Linked DNA regions of Homo sapiens. The protein of the gene in region 1 interacts with the protein of each later gene in a pairwise test. Each region holds a gene or a part of one and is shown on either strand. Other genes may lie near its edges.

Region 1 (7,029 bases):
GAGCTACCACGTAAGTCATTCTACTGCCTGGGAAGTCCATGGGACCAATTCCTGGCAATAATTCAATTAGAATTCAACCACAATCCTTCCCCCACTGAAATGAAGTACCTAACATTTTATGTATAGGATCAGTCACGTTTTGTAAGAATTATCAAATGCATACACAGCAGAAATTTAAACTCTTGATTAAGAACCTAACTAAATCCCTTAATGGACAAACAGATCCCATGCTAGGTCCATTTTAGCTCAACTTGTTTCTCTAACTCAGCTGGCAGCTTAGTCATTGAATGATGAGGCCCCACACACTTTCAAGTACAAAACAAAGCTATGAGCACACCAAGACCAAAACTACTGACAAAAGGCAAGCACAAGAATGAAGACACAGTCTACTGTTCCCTGCTTTCAACAGTCAGGAACTACCGTCCTTATTCCAATGAGACATAGTCTACTGTTCCCTGCTTTCAACAGTCAGGAGCTACAGTCCTTCTTATTCCAATGAGACACAGTCTACTGTTCCATGCTTTCAACAGTCAGGAGCTACAGTCCCTCTTATTCTAATGAGACACAGTCTACTGTTCACTGCTTTCAACAGTCAGGAGCTACTGTCCTTCTTATTCTAATGAGACATAGTCTACTGTTCCCTGCTTTCAATAGCTGAGAGTTAGCGTCCTTCTTATTCTAATGAGACATAATCTACTGTTCCCTGCTTTCAATAGCTGAGCGTTACCGTCCTTCTTATTCTAATGAGACACAGTCTACTGTTCCATGCTTTCAACAGTCAGGAGCTACCGTCCTTCTTATTCCAATGAGACACAGTCTACTGTTCCCTGCTTTCAATAGCTGAGAGTTACCATCCTTCTTATTCCAGTGGAGCGTGTGTAATGACAAACGGAATTACCTAAGTGAAAAAAACTAGAATAAAATGATATGGTATCTTTGCAGTACAATAAACTGACTCCAAATTTGATACAAAACAGCATGTCAATTCACACAAGCCATTTGGAATTCTTAAGAAATAACCGTTTTGAAATCTGTGGTTCTCTAAGACTTAAGGCACTTAAATACTTAAATAAGAAGCTAAGAACAATCTGTCTCCTGCGGCTCCTATTTCTTATCAGGGCCTAAAACAACTAAATAGAAAGACAAGCACACCCCCTTTAGCACTTCCCATATTCCTAATGCTTTCCCTCGTAGAAACTCGCTGATTCACCACCTGCCCAGGTGCTCTGGGACAGAGGGCCACAGGCAGGAAGATGCTGGCCCCATTCTCGGCACATTCGCACCCCCCATGGAAGTGCTGAAGAGAGGACGCCACTACGGGCTGAGATTAAATCTGACATAAGAGACATTAATGGATTGGCTATTTTCCCAACATTTACATACACAGCAATCATTTAAAGGTGACTTCCTCATTTTCACCAAGCCACTATGCCAAATAAGGCAGCTCAAGCAGATATTTTCATAACACCGACCCCACTGGGATATACATTCCCAAGGACAGTCAGTGAAACAGATTTATTACAAAAAATGTTTCCTCCTAATGGGATGAGAAAACAGAATGGCTCTGGATGATGACCTCTCCTTCAAAATAAAGTCAAATTTAAGATGAGAAAAAGTTCTGCAGTTCACCCCAATCCTAACAACCTGTGTTGTACAGCAAAATTATGTTTGATGAGAACAATCAGTGGTAAAGATGGCTATAAAACTCTGCTCAAAGCCTAGCTAAAGAAAAATGTCTTACACAAAACATCAAAAAAACTTAAACTCAGACACAAAGAAAATTTGTATTTTTCCTTATAGATACAGATCAATACTAAGTAAGCTCCAAATTTGATATCGTCTCATAAGTTCATTTAGATTTTTTTGTTTTTATGACCCTGGACTCCCCAGAATTACCAAGTTTTTTTGCCTTAGCTAACACAGTTTCAATCAAACAAACATCAGGCCTGAAGGGGGTGGCCAGATCTATGTGGGGATTTATACAAAATCCACATCCAAAAATAATTACAACAATTAGTCTGTCGTTACTGCAATGTGATTTTCAATTTCTATGAAAATGAAATCAGGAGCATCCCTCCTTTCCTCAAATTTCATGTGTGAAAAACTCCATTGCCCTGATCCTGCAATTAATACATACACAAAAACCTGCACCTCAACGTTCACAGCAGCATTCCTGACAACAGCCAAAAAGTGCAAACCACCCAGATGCCCATCAACTGATGATGGATCAACAGAATGAGGGCCATCCATACCTCGGCACATCACGCAGCCATGAAAAGGAACAAAGCACTGGGCAAAAGCTACAATGTGGGTGATGCCACAGGATTCCATTTAGAGTCAAGGTCCACAACAGGCACATCCACGAGGACGGAGATGAGCTGGGTGCCGGGGCTGGAGGCTGGGAGAATGGAAAGTGACTGTTGATGGGCACAGGGCTTCTTCTGGGGGTAATAAAAAATATTCTAGAATTAGTCCGAAGTGATGACTGTACAACCTTGAGAATATACTAAAAACAACTGAGACGTATGCTTTAAAACAGTCAATTTTATGGTATATAAATTAGATCTCAACTTGGAAAAAAAAAAAAGATCAACTCAACGTCTCTTTCTCTCTTCCCTCCATTCTGCCATCTGAATCCTAGCAATTTGTATTAGAGGTAAAAGCAATTTTTGTGGAAGACATTGTTTTCAATGTTTCAGATACGGTAATGAGTCTTCCTAACAGGAAAGCCTTTGTTCACTAGACAAAGCAACATCGAGTTGCTAGGAAAAATCAACAACTCAGACGCAGATGCAGAAAAACTGAGTTCTTCCTAGTAAGCAAGGAAAACACATGCTTTACAACTCCACGCACAAAGCTAAGTCTGTTTGGTTCTTTCTTTTCTCCACGCTGTAGTCACTGACAGTCATCTGGTCACTTACGGTGACAGGATGAAGGGCACACAGAGGCTCTCAGGGGAAGACGGCTCTGAAAGGCACACTGGGCAGGCCGAGGGCCAGGCGGGAGGGCACCTCAGAGCCCTGCAGGAGAGAGGCCCCCGCTAGGAGTCCAAGTAGGACAAACAGCTTCACATCCTTCCAGATCTCGGGGGAAATGGGCAATGCATCCTGTGCCATGGAACCCGTGGAAGCTGCGTCCTCTAGCCCAGCAACCTGCCTCTGAGAGCCCACGTCCAGACACTGATCCAAGAGACATGAAAACACAGCAGGCCAATGCTAGTTTCAATAACGAAAGGTTAGAGGGGGCCATCCCTGGAAAGCATCCAGACCTGATGAAATAAGCAAAACTGGCTAAAAATGACTCTGTCCATCTGCACTAACGTGGAAAGATTTCTACTGTGTAGGGGAAAGAAGTGAGTTATAAAATCATAAAATGTGCACCAAAAAACCCCAAAAGGTTTAGAGATCTCAGAATGGTGGGATCACAGTTATTTTCCCTTTAATCTTCATGTTTATACTGTATCACTATCTTTTTTTTTTTTTTTTTTTTTTTGAGACAGAGTCTCTGACGCCCAGGCTAGAGTACAGTGGTGCGATCTCAGCTCACTGCAACCTCTGCCACCCAGGTTCAAGCAATTCTCCCGCCTCAGCCTCCCAAGTAGCTGGGATTACAGGCACCTGTCACCGTGCCCAACTAATTTTTGTAGTTTTAGTAGAGATGGGGTTTCACCATTTTGGCCAGGCTGGTCTTGAACTCCTGACCTCATGATCCACCCGCCTCAGCCTCCCAAAGTGCTGGAATTACAGGTGTGAGCCACTGAGCCTGTCCTATACTGTATCACTTTTTTTTTTTTTTTGAGATGGAGTTTCCTCTATTGCCCAGGCTGGATGCAATGGCATGATCTCGGTTCACCGCAACCTCCACCTCCCAGGCTCAAGCGATTCTCCTGCCTCAGCCTCCCGAGTAGCTGGGATTACAGGCACCTGCCACCACACCCGGCTAATTTTGTATTTTCAGTAGAGACAGGGTTTCTCCATGTTGGCCAGGCTGGTCTCGAACTCCCGACTTCAGGTGATCCGCCCGCCTCAGCCTCCCAAAGTGCTGGGATTACAGGCGTGAGCCACCGCGCCTGGCCACTGTATCACTTCTTTAAAAAACAACAAAATTTCTAAAAGGCAAAACAAACAAACAATTGTACTGGCGCTCTGGCCGAGGAAAGCCGCCCTGGACGCACCTTCCGAGTTCAGGGTGATGAGCGTGACGTTGCTCCCGATGCTCTGACTGCCCGCCTGCCCACAGCTGGACACAGAGTCGCTGGCCTCCGAGCCGCTCTCCCCGTCCTCGTGGTGGCTGTCTTCTTGGCCCGGCACCTTCACCACAATGGTGTTCTGCCGACGCCCAGGCACAGCGCTAAACGGGAAAAAAAACACACCAGCCCGATGTGGTAAGAGCCGCAAGCAGCACGCGAAGGTCAGCGCTTTCCTTATCGCAAAATCTAACTCTGTGTGGACCAGTGGATCACACAGCCTTCCCATACTGCTCTCTCTACCAAGATTAATAGAAACTCCATGGGAGAAAATGGCCTGGGGCTGAAAGAAACTGTATAAAATAAAACTTAACCATTTAAAGAAAATGTTTGTATCACAAAAGGAGTAAAATCATACTCACTGGGACTCAGGCCTAGCATGCTGCCTTCTGAGTTCAGTAGTCATCCCATAAAATGCTGGTAAGAGTCTTTTTTCCGGCGAGGTTAAAGGGAAGACTAAATGAGGAAAACTGTGCCCAGAGGCCTGGGTCAATTCGATCCACGCTGCTGGGCTCGCTGGAGATGGCTCCCCCTCGCAATGCGAGCAGCACTCCCACGTACGCCCACGGGCAAAAAACCCTGACGGGGCTTAAAAAACCCACTGAGATCCCATCGGAGCTGCCATCATCCCAAGGGCTGCTGATGTGGAAGGACAGAACACTGCTAGCAAAGCAGGGCGAGGCCACCTCCACAAGTGCTCAAAAAAAAGGATGATTTAGAGACTTACTACTTCCCTTTTTTAGTGACCCTTTCAACATCCTCTACCGTGGACTGCTACGCACCAGCAGGAGAAAGGAGCACAATTTCTCTATATGCAAAGTCAAAAAAAAGGGTGTTGAAAACACTGGCCGCACCCAGAGGAGGGCGCTGCACTCTGCACTTTCTGGCCTGGATTCTCTAGAGCGCTGTCCACGCTGAACCTGATCTCAACACTGGCCATCTGCCTGGCTGACCTCAGTGCAAAGCCCCTGAGGCACAGCTGACCCTGGCACCTCCTCACCGCCCATCACCAACTCCTCTCCCTTCACCCCACGTATCAGACCCTTGCGACCACAGCTGCGGCCCTGGAGAACTGAGCTAAGACAATACAGAAAGGGGACGAAGCTGGAGGAGGAGGAATCCACAAAGGAGACTGAGAGAAAAAGCAAATAGAACTTTGTGAAGACACAGATGGGAAAGAAAAAGCAACAGCATCCTCAGGGGTTCACGCAGCCCCAGGGGCACTCCTGGGGACAGCAGGGCTTGGATGCCAGCCAGAGGCCACTGCACAGCCTTCCCCTCACACAGAGCGGGGACGGTGTCTTCTGTCCACTCCCACCTCTGACCAAAGTTCCATTCAAAATGTCTCAAGAGAAAAAGGTATAAGAAAAAAGTCATAAACTCAACATGCCTGCACCACTTAGCAACCGTGGGAGAGGGCGTCTGTTTGCCTGACACGCTCTGCACAGACAGACGTGAGGACCACTGAGCTAGGTGGGAGGATGAACGCTTTCACAGACTGCTGTGAGGAGACAGAGCCAGCCCCCTCCACAACCCCGGCCAGCACGAGACACAGAAGTCCCCGGCGGCAGCTGCCCCTGGTGTGGCTGGACTCAGCATTCAGCATCGCCCAGCCTGCCCTCCCCGACCTCAGAGAGCTGGGGCGGTGCCTGCCAGGCTCAACCCTGTGACCACAGAGATGAAGCGTGTGCTGGACTGTGCCCTGGCTTAGGGACGTTGACTTATTCTCATGGGACTCCGCACAGTGGCAGGGAAAGGTGGGGTTGGTGCCGTGCTACTGACTTGCTAATGACATTTTCCAGGGAATCCGGTGCCCTGTTGCTCAAGGGGTCTTCCATCTTGGCTACAATGGCGTTCTGCCGATCATTGTTGAGTATTACTGTAGTCTGGGGGACGACGCTAGGGAACAAAAGAATCACAAAGAAAAAGAAGGCCTTAAAACAACAACATTCATGGTAAGAGCACATAAGAGTCATTCAACACAGTCCACTCCCAGGGACCCGCACTGAGGGGGAGGCCTAAGAGTCATTCAACATAGTCCACTCCCAGGGACCCGTCCTGAGGGGGAAGGAGCCCCAAATGCTAAGGAAGAATAAACTGGAGATGGGGTTTTTAGCAGAACGTAACTTTTCCTAATTGTTGGTGATCTGTCTGCACAACTGGATAGCACAGGACAGCTGGGCTGAGGATGCTGAACTTGTGACAGAATAGACTGCAACCGCACCAGCTGTTATCGCACCCAGTTAATAAAGCTTCTAGGGTGGCACACTTGCATGAGAACTGGCTTGACATTTTCAGTCACTCCATCCCAACTCATTCCTATGGGACAGATCTAACGTTCGTAACCACGTAAGTGTTGGTATCATTCCAAAACGGTAGCGCCCTGGAAAGAAAGGGGCAAACATCACGTTGGACTTGGGATGGAAGGACACACATGCTGCCTCCAGGTCCTGCAGGAACATGTGTGAGCTACAACCAAAGGGCTCAGGGTTCTGCTTTGAAGGAAAAGATTCTACAAAAGAACAGACCATGGCCCAGAAACCAGCAAGCCTGGCGCCACCCTGGAGGAAGCACGAGTGTGTTCAGACAGGCGGCAGCTAACACAGCTTCATCTCAAAGTACAGACTCACCCACAGTTTTCAATCATGCGTTTTTAAGCCTTAGCACTTTCTGGTCACAAGGGATATCTAAGGTCCGCTTTGTTGTGGAAGGCTGGGGAGAGAAAGAACTAGCACTAGAAACACAACGTGATTATCACCTGACAATAAAACTCCATTCTTGGA
Region 2 (7,350 bases), on another chromosome or scaffold:
ACGGTCAAGGAACTAAAGTAAAAAGGTTAAAATTATACATCACTGTGCATTTCCAGGAAAGAAAAGTGAAACACATTTTACCAGACAGAGAAGTTAAAAACAACCAGGTTCATTTTTCCCATTCCTGTAAATTCACTCCCCTTATTTGTGAATCTTCAAGAATCTAGTATAGCCCCTCCCTACCTTTACTCAGGTAAAAGACCAATCACTCATCAATTGCCAAAACGCCTTGACAGTTTAAGGTCTCAATCCTCAGAGTCAGCAAAGCTGAAGTGTCTATGTCCTTTTAAAAGGAGTCTGCATCTCTACTTTAGAAACCATTTTCTCACTGCGCTTGGTGGCTTACGCCTGTGATCCCAGCACTTTGGGAGGCCGAGGCAGGCGGATCACCTGGTTCGAAACCAGCCTGACCAAAATGGCGAAACCCCATCTCTACTAAAAATACAAAAACTAGCCGGGCATGGTGGTGGGTGCCTGTAATCGCAACTACTTGGAGGCTGAGGCAGGAGAACTGCTTGAACCCGGGAGGTGGAGGTTGCAATGAGCCGAGATTGCGCTACTGCACTCCAGCCTGGGCGACAGAACAAGACTCTGTGTCAAAACAAAATAAAATAAAAAGAACCCATTTTCTCTTTCCATAAACACATAGTTTGTCCTCTGCTTTGTCTACATTAAAAAACACGTCTCAGGAGTGTTTCTTCAGCCTCTCAGGAAAACCAAGACACCTCTTGGGCTCCTCTTCTGAGATATTCCACCTGAGAGATCCCACTGACAAGCAGGGTAACAAAAAGCAGAGCTAGAGGGCTGCCTTATGCATATCTGACCTCCAAAACAGCGACAGGTCCCCGGAGCAGCCAGAGACTCCTTTGCAAAGGAGAACTTTTTATAATTTAAAAATAATAAAATGGGCCAAGCACGGTGGTTCACGCCTGTAATCCCAGCACTTTGGGAGGCTGGGGCGGGCGGATCACCTGAGGTCAGAAGTTTGAGACCAGCCTGTCCAGCAATGGAGAAACCCCGAGTGTACTAAAAAAAATACAAAAATTAGCCGGGTATGGTGGCACGTGCCTATAATCCCAGGTACTAGGGAGGCTGAGGCAGGAGAATTGCTTGAACCCAGGAGGCGGAGGTTGCAGTGAACCAAGTTCGCACCACTGCACTCCAGCCTGGGTGACAGAGCAAGACTCCTTCACCCACCTCAAAAAAAATTATAATAAAATAAAATAAAAATAAAGATAACAAAATAGCCAGGCACGGTGGCTCACGCCTGTAATCCCGGCACTTTGAGAGGCCGAGGTGGGTGGATCACCTGACGTGAGGAGTTCAAGACCAGCCTGGCCAACATGGTGAAACCCCATCTCTACTAAAACTACAAAAATTAGCCAGGCGTGGTGGTGGGCATTTGTAATCCCAGCTACTCAGGAGGCTGAGACAGGAGAATCGCTTGAACCCGGGAGGCGGAGGTTGCTGTGAGCCGAGATGATGCCACTGCACTCCTGCCTGGCGACAGAGCGAGACTCCGTCTCAAAAATAAAATAAAATATAATAAACAAATTATATTTTCACATCCCTCACTGGGCAGCCCTCCCAGCTTGTCTCAAACTAGTTTTCTTAACTCTTTTTTCCAGACGGAGTCTCGCACTGTCACCCGAACTGGAGTGCAATAGCACTATCTCGGCTCACCGCAACCTCTGCCTCCCGGGTTCGAGTGATTCCCCTGCCTCAGCTTCCCAAGCAGCTGGGATTACAGGCGCCCGCCACCACACCCGGCTGATTTTTTGTATTTTTAGTAGAGACGGGATTTCACTACGTTGGCTAGGCTGGTCTCCAACTTCTGACCTCGTGATCCGCCCGCCTCGGCCTCCCAAAGTGCTGGGATTACAGACATGAGCCACTGCACCCGGCCTTTTCTCAACTCGTTAAAGCACATTAGTGCCAACTGTGTTATAAGGCAACATGAGTTAGCTATGTTCAGAAAATATTTTAATAGATTGGCCCTCCATCCTTTCGGGTGAGGAGCTGCAAACCGTTTGTAAAAACGCCGGAGTACGGTATTTTTCCTACAGAAGTCTGATGGCTAATTTATCACATTACAGAACTGGTAGTTCTGCACATGGTCTGCTGTGCCCATAAAGAAAGCACATATGTGTCTACTGAGGTTTTACAAACAATACGCTTCTTATCTTAACAGAGAAATCAGTCATTCCATTAACAACGGTAAGGTCTAAATTCCACTAACATTGTTGGTGATACATTAACATCAACATAGTACTTACAATTCACAATTTGCATAAACAATCTCAATTACATAGGTGATGCTTGCAATAGCCCGTTTGAAGCATGACATCTTCCTGGTGTTCAGAAAGGTTAAGTGGGACCTGCCCAAGGTTACCTAACAGCTTTATCAATGGTGGACTTCCTTTCGAACCTGCCTGACTCTAAGCCCCTAGCTCTTTTCCCTAGACCCCTCCCGGCTTTCAAAAGAGGGTTCCCGACTCCCATCCTCTACCCAGAGCAGCCTATTACTCCGGGAGACCGACCCTTCCCCTGCCTGGTTCAGAGGTGGCTTCTTAAGCTCCAGCAGAGCTTTCATCCTCCACCACCCTCCCCCCGCAATCATTCTCTGAAAGAAGCGGAAAGGAGAGGCGACCAAAAGCTCCTGGAGGAAGGGATGATACAAATGGGCTGCTTCACTCCACAGCACGCAACCCCGTCCCCCTCCACCAAGCTGTCCAGCTCTGCGGCCGGCGACCGGGCCACCCGTGCCCCAAATTCTCCCATCATCACCTCAAACTGTACCTCCCCCACGCCCTTCCGTCTCCCACAGTCAGAGCCCACCCCACAAAGTCATGTATCCTTCCGCTAAGTTACCCTCTTCCCACGCGTTGTCCACTCCCCCTCCACCACTACTCACGGTCGGTGACTGGGCCCGGCCCTCATGGCTGCTCCTTTGCCGCCCGCCGCCCGCCGCCACCACTTCTCCACTGCCCGGCCCCTCAGTCACCGGCGCAGCTGTGGGGACTACCCGGAGCCGCTCCTGCGCCTGCGCAGCGTGTAGCGCCTGGGCCCTTTCGGGCCGCACGCGCCTGCGCAGCCCCTGCCGGGGGCGTCTTCCTCAGTGCCTGATGGTCTGGACCCCTGGGTCTCTAGTGGACATGGGAGCTGGCCTTGAAGAATTCTGAGGCTTAGAGAATTTGGCGGCTGCCTCAGGGTACGCCTCTGGAGTACCGTGCCTAGGTTACTAAACCCTTGGATCGCGCTTCCCCAAGGAGCCACAGACTTACTGGCTCTTCCAGAATTCTGCATCCTACTTGCACTTAAAGGCCTGAATTCAGGTGCTCTGAGGTGACCACTGATGATAAATTTGGGTCTTTTTTTTTTTTTTTCTGAGTCGAAGTTTCGCTCTTGTTGTCCAGGTTGGAGTGCAATGGCGTGATCTCGGCTCAAACAACCTCCGCCTCCCGGGTTCAAGCGATTCTCCTGCCTCAGCCTCCCGAGTAGCTGGGATTACAGGCATGCACCACCACGCCCAGCTAATTTTGTATTTTTAGTAGAGACGGGGTTTTATCATGTTGGTCAGGCTGGTCTCGAACTCCCGACCTCAGGTGATCCACCCACCTCAGCCTTCTAAAGCGCTGGGATTACAAGCATGAGCCACCGCGCCCAGCCTGGGTCTTTTTTTTTTTTTTTTTTTTTTGAGACGGAGTTTTGCTCTTGTTGCCCAGGCTGGAGTGCAGTGGCGCGATCTCAGCTCACTGCAACCTCCGCCTCCCGGGTTCAAACGATTCTCCTGCCTCAGCCTCCTGACTAGCTGGGATTACAGGCTTGCACCACCACGCCTGGCTAACTTTTGTATTTTTAGTAGAGACGGGGTTTCACCATGTTGGCCAGGCTGGTCTCGAACTCCTGACCTCAGATGATTCGCCCGCCCCGGCCTCCCAAAGTGCTGGGATTACAGGCCTGAGTCACCATGCCTGGTAAAATTTGGGTCTCTTTCAAGATGATCGTGTCTAGAATGTATCGGGGGTAATTATGTAAAGGCAGCTTTGCCATCCTAGAATACGCTACTAGCTAGGAGGTGCAATGAAGTCCTGGGGACCTTGTCAAGGAGGTGACCTCGCCTAGAATGCACTGGGGACACCGCTAAGTTCAGTATGTTTATCAAGCACATGCTGTTTATTGGACAGAAATGTTCTAGGCATCGCGTGTATGCTATTGAGGAATTCGCAGGCAAATAGTCCCCTGCTTTCCAGCTCTCACTGTGAGCCTGGCCCTTTTTCAAACTGGTAAAAGAAAACCACTAAAGTCCAGTGAGGCCCAACTGTCAGTCCCTAGACTACTGTGCTGCTTTGGCATAGCCTGACAAGAGACTAAGCTCAATCGAGTCCTGAGAATTCAACAAAACAGACTTGAAAGCAGCAGGCAAGAGGAGGTACAGGACTAAACTCTCTCCTCATCACCATGGCTCTTTTTTCTCTCTCAACTCCAGCGCTGGTCTCCTCTCTTCAGAGTTTGGACACATAAGGCCCAAGATACAACGTAAGGGGGAAAAAGAGAAGAAAAAAAGACAAGTTGAGTGCTCAATGAGGAATGTTAAAAAAATTTAAATAGGCCAGGTGCAGTGGCTCACGCCTGTAATCCCAGCACTTTGGGAGGCCGAGGCGGGCGGATCATGAGGTCAGGAGATCGAGACCATCCTGGCTAACACGGTGAAACCCCGTCTCACTAAAAATACAAAAAATTAGCCGGGCGTGGTGGCGGGCGCCTGTAGTCCCAGCTACTCAGGAGGCTGAGGCAAGAGAATGGCGTGAACCCGGGAGGCGGAGCTTGCAGTGAGCCGAGATCAAGCCACTGCATTCCAGCCTGGGCGACAGAGCGAGACTCCGTCTCAAAAGAAAAAAAAATTAAAAATAAAGCTGGGCATAGTGACTTATGCTTGTAATCCCAACATTTTGGGAGGCCAGGTTGGGAGGATTGCTTGAGCCCAGGAGTTAGAGACCAGCCTGGGCAACATAGGGAGACTCATCTCTACAAAAAATCTAAAAAATAGTGGCCAGGCAAGATAGCTCATGCCTGTAAACCCAGCACTTTGGGAGGTTAAGGCGGGCGGATCACTTGAAGCCAGGAATTCGAGACCAGCCTGGCCAACACGGTGAAACCCTGTCTCTACTGAAAAAATACAAAAATTATCTGGGCATGGTGGCATGCACCTGTAGTCCCAGCTACTCAGGAGGCTGAGGCAGGAAAATCGCTTGAACCCAGGAACGGAGGTTACAATGAGCCGAGATCGCACCACTGCACTCCAGCCTGGATAACAGAGTGAGACTCCATCTCAATTAAAAAAATAAATAGGGCCGGGCGCGGTGGCTCAGGCCTGTAATCCCAGCACTTTGGGAGGTCGAGGTGGGCGGATCACGAGGTCAGGAAATCGAGACCATCCTGGCTAACACGGTGAAACCTCATCTCTACTAAAAATATAAAAAATTAGCCGGGCATGGTGGCGGGCCCCTGCAGTCCCAGCTACTTGGGAGGCTGAGGCGGGAGAATGGCGTGAAGCCCGGAGGCAGAGCTTGCAGTGAGCCAAGACGGTGCCACTGCACTCCAGCCTGGGGACAGAGCGAGACTCCATCTCAAAAAAAAAAAATACAAAAATACAAAAAAATTGGCTGGGCGTGGTGGTGGGCGCCTGTAGTCCCAGCTACACGGGAGGCCGAGGCAGGAGAATGGCATGAACTGGGAAGCGGAGCTTGCAGTGAGCCGAGATCGCGCCACTGCACTCCAGCCTTGGCGACAGAGCGAGACTCTGTCTCAAAAAAAAAAGGAAAAAAAGAAAAAATAAATAAATAGGCCAGGCACAGTGGGTCACACCTGTAATCCCAGCACTTTGGGAAGCCGAGGTGGGCAGATCATAAGGTCAGGAGATCGAGACCATTCTGGCTAACACGGTGAAACCCCATCTCTACTAAAAATACAAAAAATTAGCCGGGCATGGTGGCGGGTGCCTGTAGTCCCAGCTACTTGGGGGGCTGAGGTGGGACAATCAATTGAACCCGGGAGGTGGAGGTTGTAGTGAGCCAAGATTGCGCCACTGCAATCCAGCCTGGGTGACAGAGCAAGGCTCCATCTCAAAAAGAAAAATAAATAAATAAATAAGGGTTGGGCCTGGTGGCTCACGCCTGTAATCTCAGCACTTTGGGAGGCCAAGGCGGGTGGATCACGAGGTCAGGAGATCGAGACCATCCTGGCTAACACGGTGAAACCCCGTCTCTACTAAAAATACAAAAAATTAGCTGGGCATGGTGGCGGGCGCCTGTAGTCCCAGGTACACAGGAGGCTGAGGCAGGAGAACGGCGTGAACCCAGGAGGTGGAGGTTGCAGTGAGCCGAGACCATGCCACTGCACTCCAGCCTGGGCGACAGAGCAAGACTCCATCTCAAAAAAAAAAAAAAAAATTAGCTGGATGTGGTGGTGCACACCTGTGGTCCCACCTACTTGGGAGGCTGAGGTGGGAGAATCACTTGAACCCAGGAGGCAGAGGTTGCAGTGAGCCTAGACTACACTACACCGCAGCCTAAGGAACCGAGTGAGACTGTGTCTCAAAAAAATTTTTTTAATTAAAAAAAAAATGTTCAGGCCAGGTACGGTGACTCACGCCTGTAATGTCATCACTTTGGGAGGTGGAGTAGGCGGAGTTTGAGACCAAGCTGGGCCACATGGTGAAAACCCGTCTGTACAAAAAAATTACCAAAAAATTAGCCGGGTGTGGTGGCCCGCATCTGTAGTCCCAGCTACTTGGGAGGCTGAAGAGCGAGGATTGCTTGGGTCTGGGAGGCGGAGGTTGCAGTGAGATTCAACCATTGCACTCCAGCCTAGGGGAGCCAGACTCCATCTCAGTAAGAATAAAATTTTCCTCTTAAAAAAGAAAAGAAAATCCTCTATTAACCCCACAGCCCTCTCCTGCTCAATATTGGTCCTCAATATCCAAGGGTTCAGCATCTAGGAATTCAACCATCCGAAGAACAAAAATATCTGGGGAAAGGCCAAACGTGGTGTCTCATGCCTGTAAACTCAGCACTTGGGGAGGCCAAGGCAGAGGACCATTTGAGGCCAGGAGTTCGTGACCAGCCTGGGCAACGTAGTGAGACTCTGTCTCTGCAAAAGATTTAAAAATTAGCGCTGGGCGTGGTGGCTGACGCCTGTAATCCCAGCACTTTGGGAGGCCTAGGTGGGTAGATCACCTAAGGTCAGGAGTTCGAGACCAGCCTGACCAACATGGAGAAACCCCATCTCTACTAAAAATACCAAATTAGCCGGGCATGGTGGAACATGCCTGTGATCCCAGCTACTCGG
Region 3 (5,887 bases), on another chromosome or scaffold:
CAGCAGACAAACTCATATACCATCTTTAAGTCTTGGCCAAAGGATAACTCACATTCAACTTCCCCCATGTCTCAAGGAGTATCTCATTTGATTTAAATGAACCATATACAGGCTGGAAGCGGTGGCTTATGCCTGTAATCCCAGCACTTTGGGAGGCCAAGGTGGGCAGATCATGAGTCAAGAGATCGAGACTATCCTGTAGTCCCAGCTACTCAGGAGGGTGAGGCAGGAGAATCGCTTGAACCCGGGAGGTGGAGGTTGCAGTGAGCCGAGATCGCACCACTGCACTCCAGCCTGGTGACAGAGCGAGACTCCGTCTCAAAAAATAAAAACAAAAAATGAACCATGCACAACAAGCAACACATAAAAAAACTCATGGAATAACATGAGAGCAGCTCACCCCGCCCGCTACCAAAAACAAAACAAAACAAAAACAAACAACAGGGAAGGAGTTCTTGTATCTGTGTGCATGGTTTCTATTTGTATTGTAAACAAAAACAACAAATAAGATACTATGAATGCATTTTTTAAGCTTTATAAAGTTTATGTAGTTAATAACGATGTCATCATGTTAGTCATGAAGTTACATCTCAGTTCATAAACTGCAAGACATCTTTGAGTAGAGATCCATCTCATTTTCCGTAACTACACAGTGATCTACTAAACTGATTTTCTGTAACTTAAGTAACCCATAACTTTAATAGCACTAAACATTTTTTCCAAATTTTTCACAATTCTGCAACACATTTGCTTATGCATCTATATTTCTGCACTTGTGCTTTTTGAGAACATAACTGACTAGGTGTAGAATTGTGGCAAAGGGTAATTATATTCAAAATGCTGACAGGTAACACCACATTGCCCTCTAAAATGGCTTTCCTCTAATTTACCCTCTCAATATTTGAAAATACGGTTTCTCACACCTGCGACAATACTGGATATTATCCAAACTTCACATTCACATAAAATTTCTGCTGGTTTGTGTTGGTGGGGATGAGGACTTTTACAATCTGCACTTATCTGATCATTAGTGAGGTTGAGAACTTCTTCTATTTAACCATTTTAATTTCTTCATCCAATAAATTTTGTTGACATGCTCTGCAAGACTGTGCACCTTATCCTTGCTGCTTTCCAACAGCCCTTTTTCAAGGGCTATATCCTTTCTAATGTATGTTTAAGATATCTCTCAGCCTGTCATATGCCTTTTAACTTTGCATACAGTATCTTACGCCATGAAAAAGGTTTAAATCTTCTACACAGTCCTGTCATTCTCTCTTCATGGCTTCTGGACCTTGTCCTGCTTATCAAAGACCTCCTGAACCTAAAGGCACAGAAATACTCTACATTCTCCTCTACCATCTTAACCTCTTACATCTGTAATGAGTATAGAATGAACTTCTGTGTAAGGAGTCAAATGGGATGCTGACTTTATTTCTAGTTGGACAACTGTCAAAGACATTTAATCTCCCCCAATGATACATCGAAAACACTTTTCAAATATAAAAAACCCATGGATACGACCTTCTACAAAACCTCCCTTCTGATTCCTGCCTAATTAACACTCAACATGAATTTCAGAACTGTCAATGTAAAAGTAACTTACAGGATTACAATATTGAAACATTCATGTAGGATCATGTTATGGATCTCCATTTATTCACAGCCTCTGTTCTCCATCAGCAGAGGCTAATAATTTCCTTTTGTATATAACTAAGTAAACTCACCTATAATTTCATTTCTTTCCCCTTGGTTTGATATCAGAGTTGACTTAGCCTCATGAAAGAAGTGGAACATTTTAAGTGTTTTTTTTAAAAAAAATATACTCCAGAACAACTTTACTAGTGGAACAACTTTACTTGGAAGGTTAGAATAAATCTGTGAACCCACATGTTGAAATAGAACTATATTATTCAATTTCTCTTTCTTCAGTTAAACATTAGTGATTTTTTTTTACTTGACTAAATAAAGTCTTGTATATATTCCCCGCAGGAATTCTAATTCTTTTGTTCGTTTTATCCAGAGCTATATAGCCACTTCTTAAAACATGTTCTATTTATCAAGTCATAATTAATTTCCTCACCAACAAGGGAACACAGCCTTAATCATGAGACAGCCGCTGTGATGTCTTATTATAATATTAAATGTTAAGCATACTACATGTGCTAATCACCATCTACCTTAAGATACTGTTTTAAGTCAGGCTGGTTGCCTGTAATTGCAGCCACTTGAGAATGAGGTGGGAGGGTCACTTGAGCACAGGAGTTTGAGACCACCCTGGGCAACATAGAAAGACACCATTTAAAACTTTTTTTTTAGCTTAAAAAAAGATACTGTTTTGGTTCCAAAATTTTTATGACTGCCATACTGCTTTCAAGAATGCACTGTTTAAAAATAATTTACATCAATTCTGGAGAATACTTATCTAACATTTACTAAGCACTTAGTATGAGTTGGTCATTTTGCTAAGCACTTTATGTACATCAAGTATTTTAACTAGAGTTTTAAGAGTAACTTAATTTGCATTTTTGAAAGGTCACTGTGGCTGTAATGTTAACTCGAAAGGGACAAAAGAGGATGAAGTTTTAGAATTCATGGGTATGCAACCCATTGAATGTGAGGACTTTTTTGCTTATCGGAGGTGGTGTATCACTAAAACTATGCACAGACTTTTTTTTTTTCTTAGCTCATCAGCTATTGTTAATGTTAGTGTATTGTATGTGTGGCACAAGACAATTTTTCTTCTTCCAATGTGGCCCAGGGAAGACAAAAGGTTGGACACCTGTGTAATGATTGAAATAGTCCAGGTGAAATGACTGTGTTTTGGACTGGGGAACCAAAAGAAGTGGATAAATTCCAAAAATATTTAGCAGATATATCCACAGGACTTGGTGATGTAGTGGGTGAGGAAGAGCTGGCTGCCTGAAATGAACTCACTAATGAGCAAGGTGTGCATCTTGTCTGAGGACATTTGCACATTCTTTACATTGTTAAGACCGCTCTGCAGTATGAATTCTTCCCTGTAAAGCATTCAATCTGGCTGAAGGTTTTTCTTCTGTATGCTTCACGAAGTTCTCATGCTGTGTTTTTCAGCTCCATCAGGTCATTTATGTTCTTCTCTAAACTGGTTATTCTAGTTAGCAATTCCTCTAACCTTTTTTCAAGGTTCTTAGCTTCCTTGCATTGGGTTAGAACATGCTCCTTTAGCTCAGAGGAGTTTGTTATTTCCCACCTTCTGAAGCCTACTTCTGTCAATTTGTCAAACTCATTCTCTATCCAGTTTTGTTCCCTTGCCGGCAAGGAGTTGTGATCCTTTGGAGGAGAAGAGGCATTCTGGTTTTTGGAATTTTCAGGCTTTTTGCACTGGTTTCTCCTCATCTTCGTGAATTTATCTACCTTTGGTCTTTGATGCTGGTAACCTTCAGATGGGGTTTCTGTGTGGATGTCCTTTGTTGATGTTGATTATATTCCTGTTAGTTTTCCTTCTAACAGTGAGGCCCCTCGGCTGCAGGTCTGCTGGAGTTTGCTGGAGGTCCACTCCAGACCATATCTGCCTGGGTATCACCGGTGGAGGCTGCAGAACAGCAAAGATTGCTGCCTGTTCCTTCCTCTGGAAGCTTTGTCCCAGAGGGGCACCCACCAGATGCCAGCCAGAGCTCTCCTGTATGAGGTGTCTGTGGACCCCTGCTGGGAGGTGTCTCCCCGTCAGGAGGCATGGGGGTCAGGGACCCACTTGAGGAGGCAGTCTGTCCCTTAGCAGAGCTCAAGCGCTGTGCTGGAAGAACTGCTGCTCTCTTCAGAGCTGGCAGGCAGGAATGTTTAAGTCTGCTGAAGCTGTGCCCACAGCCACCCCTTTCCCCCACGTGCTTTGTCCCAGGGAGATGAGGGTTTTATCTGCACTTTTTTCAAAGATGCGCTGCCCAGAGAGGAGGAATCTAGAGAGGCAGTCTGGCTACAGAGGCTTTGCTGAGCTGTGGAGGGCTCTGCTCAGCTGGAACTTCCCCATGGCTTTGTTTACGCTGTGAGGGGAAAACCACCTATTCAAGCTTTGGTAATGGTTGGCGCCCCTCCCCCCACCAAGCTTGATCATCCCAGGTTGACTTCAGACTGCTGTGCTGGCAGGGAGAATTCCAAGCCAGTGGATCTTAGCTTGCTGGGCTCAGTGGGCATGGGAACCACTTGGCTCCCCGGCTTCAGCCCCCTTAACAAGGGAGTAAGCGGTTCTGTTTCACTGGCATTCCAGGTGCCACTGGGCTATCAAAAAAACTCCTACAGCTAGCTCGGTGTCTGCCCGAATGGCCGCCCAGTTTTGTGCTTGAAACCCAGGGCCTTGGTGGCATAGGCACCCAAGGGGGATCTCCTGGTCTGTGGGTTGCGAAGACCATGGGAAAAGCGTAGTATCTGTGCCGGAGTGCACCATTCCTCATGGCACAGTCCCTCATGGCTTCCCTTGGCTAGGGGAGGGAGATCCCCGACTCCTTGCACTTCCCAGGTGAGGTTACGCCCCACCCTGCTTCAGCTCACCCTCCGTGGGCTGCACCCACTGTCTAACCAGTCCCAATGAGATGAGCCAGGTACCTCAGCTGGAAATACAGAAAGCACCCACCTTCTGCGTTGATCTCACTGGGAACTGCAGATCAGAGCTGTTCCTATTCGGCCATCTTGCCAGCCTCCTGGCTGAAGGTTTTTCTACATTTCTTACATTTATATGTTTTTTATCCAGTGGGACATCTCTGATTAACAGTAGGGGATTGGTGATAACTAAAGGCTTGGCCACATGCACTACATTCTTAAGGTTCTTCTCCAGTATGACTTCTTTGATGACAAATTAAGGATAACTTTCTTCTGAACGCCTTCCCACATTCAAAACACTGATAGGGCCTTTGGCCAGTGTGGAGTCTTTGATGCTGAGCACAGGATGAGCTATCACTAAAAGCCTTTCCACATTCAGTACATTTATAGGGTTTCTCTCCAGTATGAATTCTTTGATGTTGAGTAAGATTGGAAGTTTGGCTGAAGGCTTTCCCGCATTCATTACACTCATAAGGTTTCTCTCCTGTATGAGTTTTCTGATGTTGGGCAAGGTGTGATCTCTGTTTGAAAGCATTTCCACATTCAATACATTCATAAGGCTTCTCTCCAGTATGAATTCTCTGATGAGTAGCCAGCTGTGAACTGATTCTAAAAGCTTTTCCACATTCTTTACATTCATAGGGTTTTTCACCAGTATGAATTCTCAAATGACTAACAAGGTGTACATTCTGCCTAAAGGCTTTCCCACATTCCTTGCATTCATACGGTTTCTCTCCAGAATGTACTCTTTGATGCTGAGTGAGTGATGCATGATGGCTAAAATCTTTCCCACATATATCACATTCATAAGGTTTCTCTCCTGTATGAATTCTCTGATGTACAGTACGGGATGAACCCGAGCTGAAGGTTTTTCCACACACACCACATTTGTAAGGTTTCTCTCCTGTATGAATTCTCCTATGCAGAATAAGTCCTATGTGAACACTGAAGGCTTTCCCACAATCAATGCAATTAAAAGGCTTCTCTCCAGTATGATAACTCCTCCAGTGACGAATAAAAGATGTGTTATACCTAAAAGCCTTCCCACACTCAATACATTCATAGGGTCTTTTGCCAGTGTGACATCTCTGATGTCGAGCAAAAGACGAGCCATCACTGAAGGCTTTGCCACATTCTTTACATTCATAGGGTTTCTCTCCAGTATGAATTCTCTGATGCTGAGCAAGGTGTGCAGGCTGTCTGAAGGCTTTTCTGCATTCCTTACATTTATATGGTTTTTCTCCAGTATGAATTCTTTGATGCTGAATAAGGTGTTCACTTTGTTTGAAGGCTTTCCTACATTCTTTACATTCAAAGA

Evidence for each region. The genes of interacting proteins can lie anywhere in the genome.
Region 2: the proteins of BANP (region 1) and FAM222B interact in binary tests that used the Homo sapiens proteins (3 or more experiments, as listed by UniProt).
Region 3: the proteins of BANP (region 1) and ZNF471 interact in binary tests that used the Homo sapiens proteins (3 or more experiments, as listed by UniProt).

Annotation. Positions count from the first base shown.
Region 1 is NC_000016.10:88,003,411-88,010,439, reverse strand, and holds part of BANP (protein BANP), read right to left. Parts: intron 6,146-7,029; coding exon 6,029-6,145; intron 4,351-6,028; coding exon 4,175-4,350; intron 1-4,174. UniProt on the Homo sapiens protein: Controls V(D)J recombination during T-cell development by repressing T-cell receptor (TCR) beta enhancer function. Binds to scaffold/matrix attachment region beta (S/MARbeta), an ATC-rich DNA sequence located upstream of the TCR beta enhancer.
Region 2 is NC_000017.11:28,839,768-28,847,117, forward strand, and holds the start of FAM222B (protein FAM222B), read right to left. Parts: upstream 3,024-7,350; 5' UTR 2,915-3,023; intron 1-2,914.
Region 3 is NC_000019.10:56,524,849-56,530,735, reverse strand, and holds the end of ZNF471 (zinc finger protein 471), read right to left. Parts: coding exon 4,788-5,887; 3' UTR 524-4,787; downstream 1-523. UniProt on the Homo sapiens protein: May be involved in transcriptional regulation.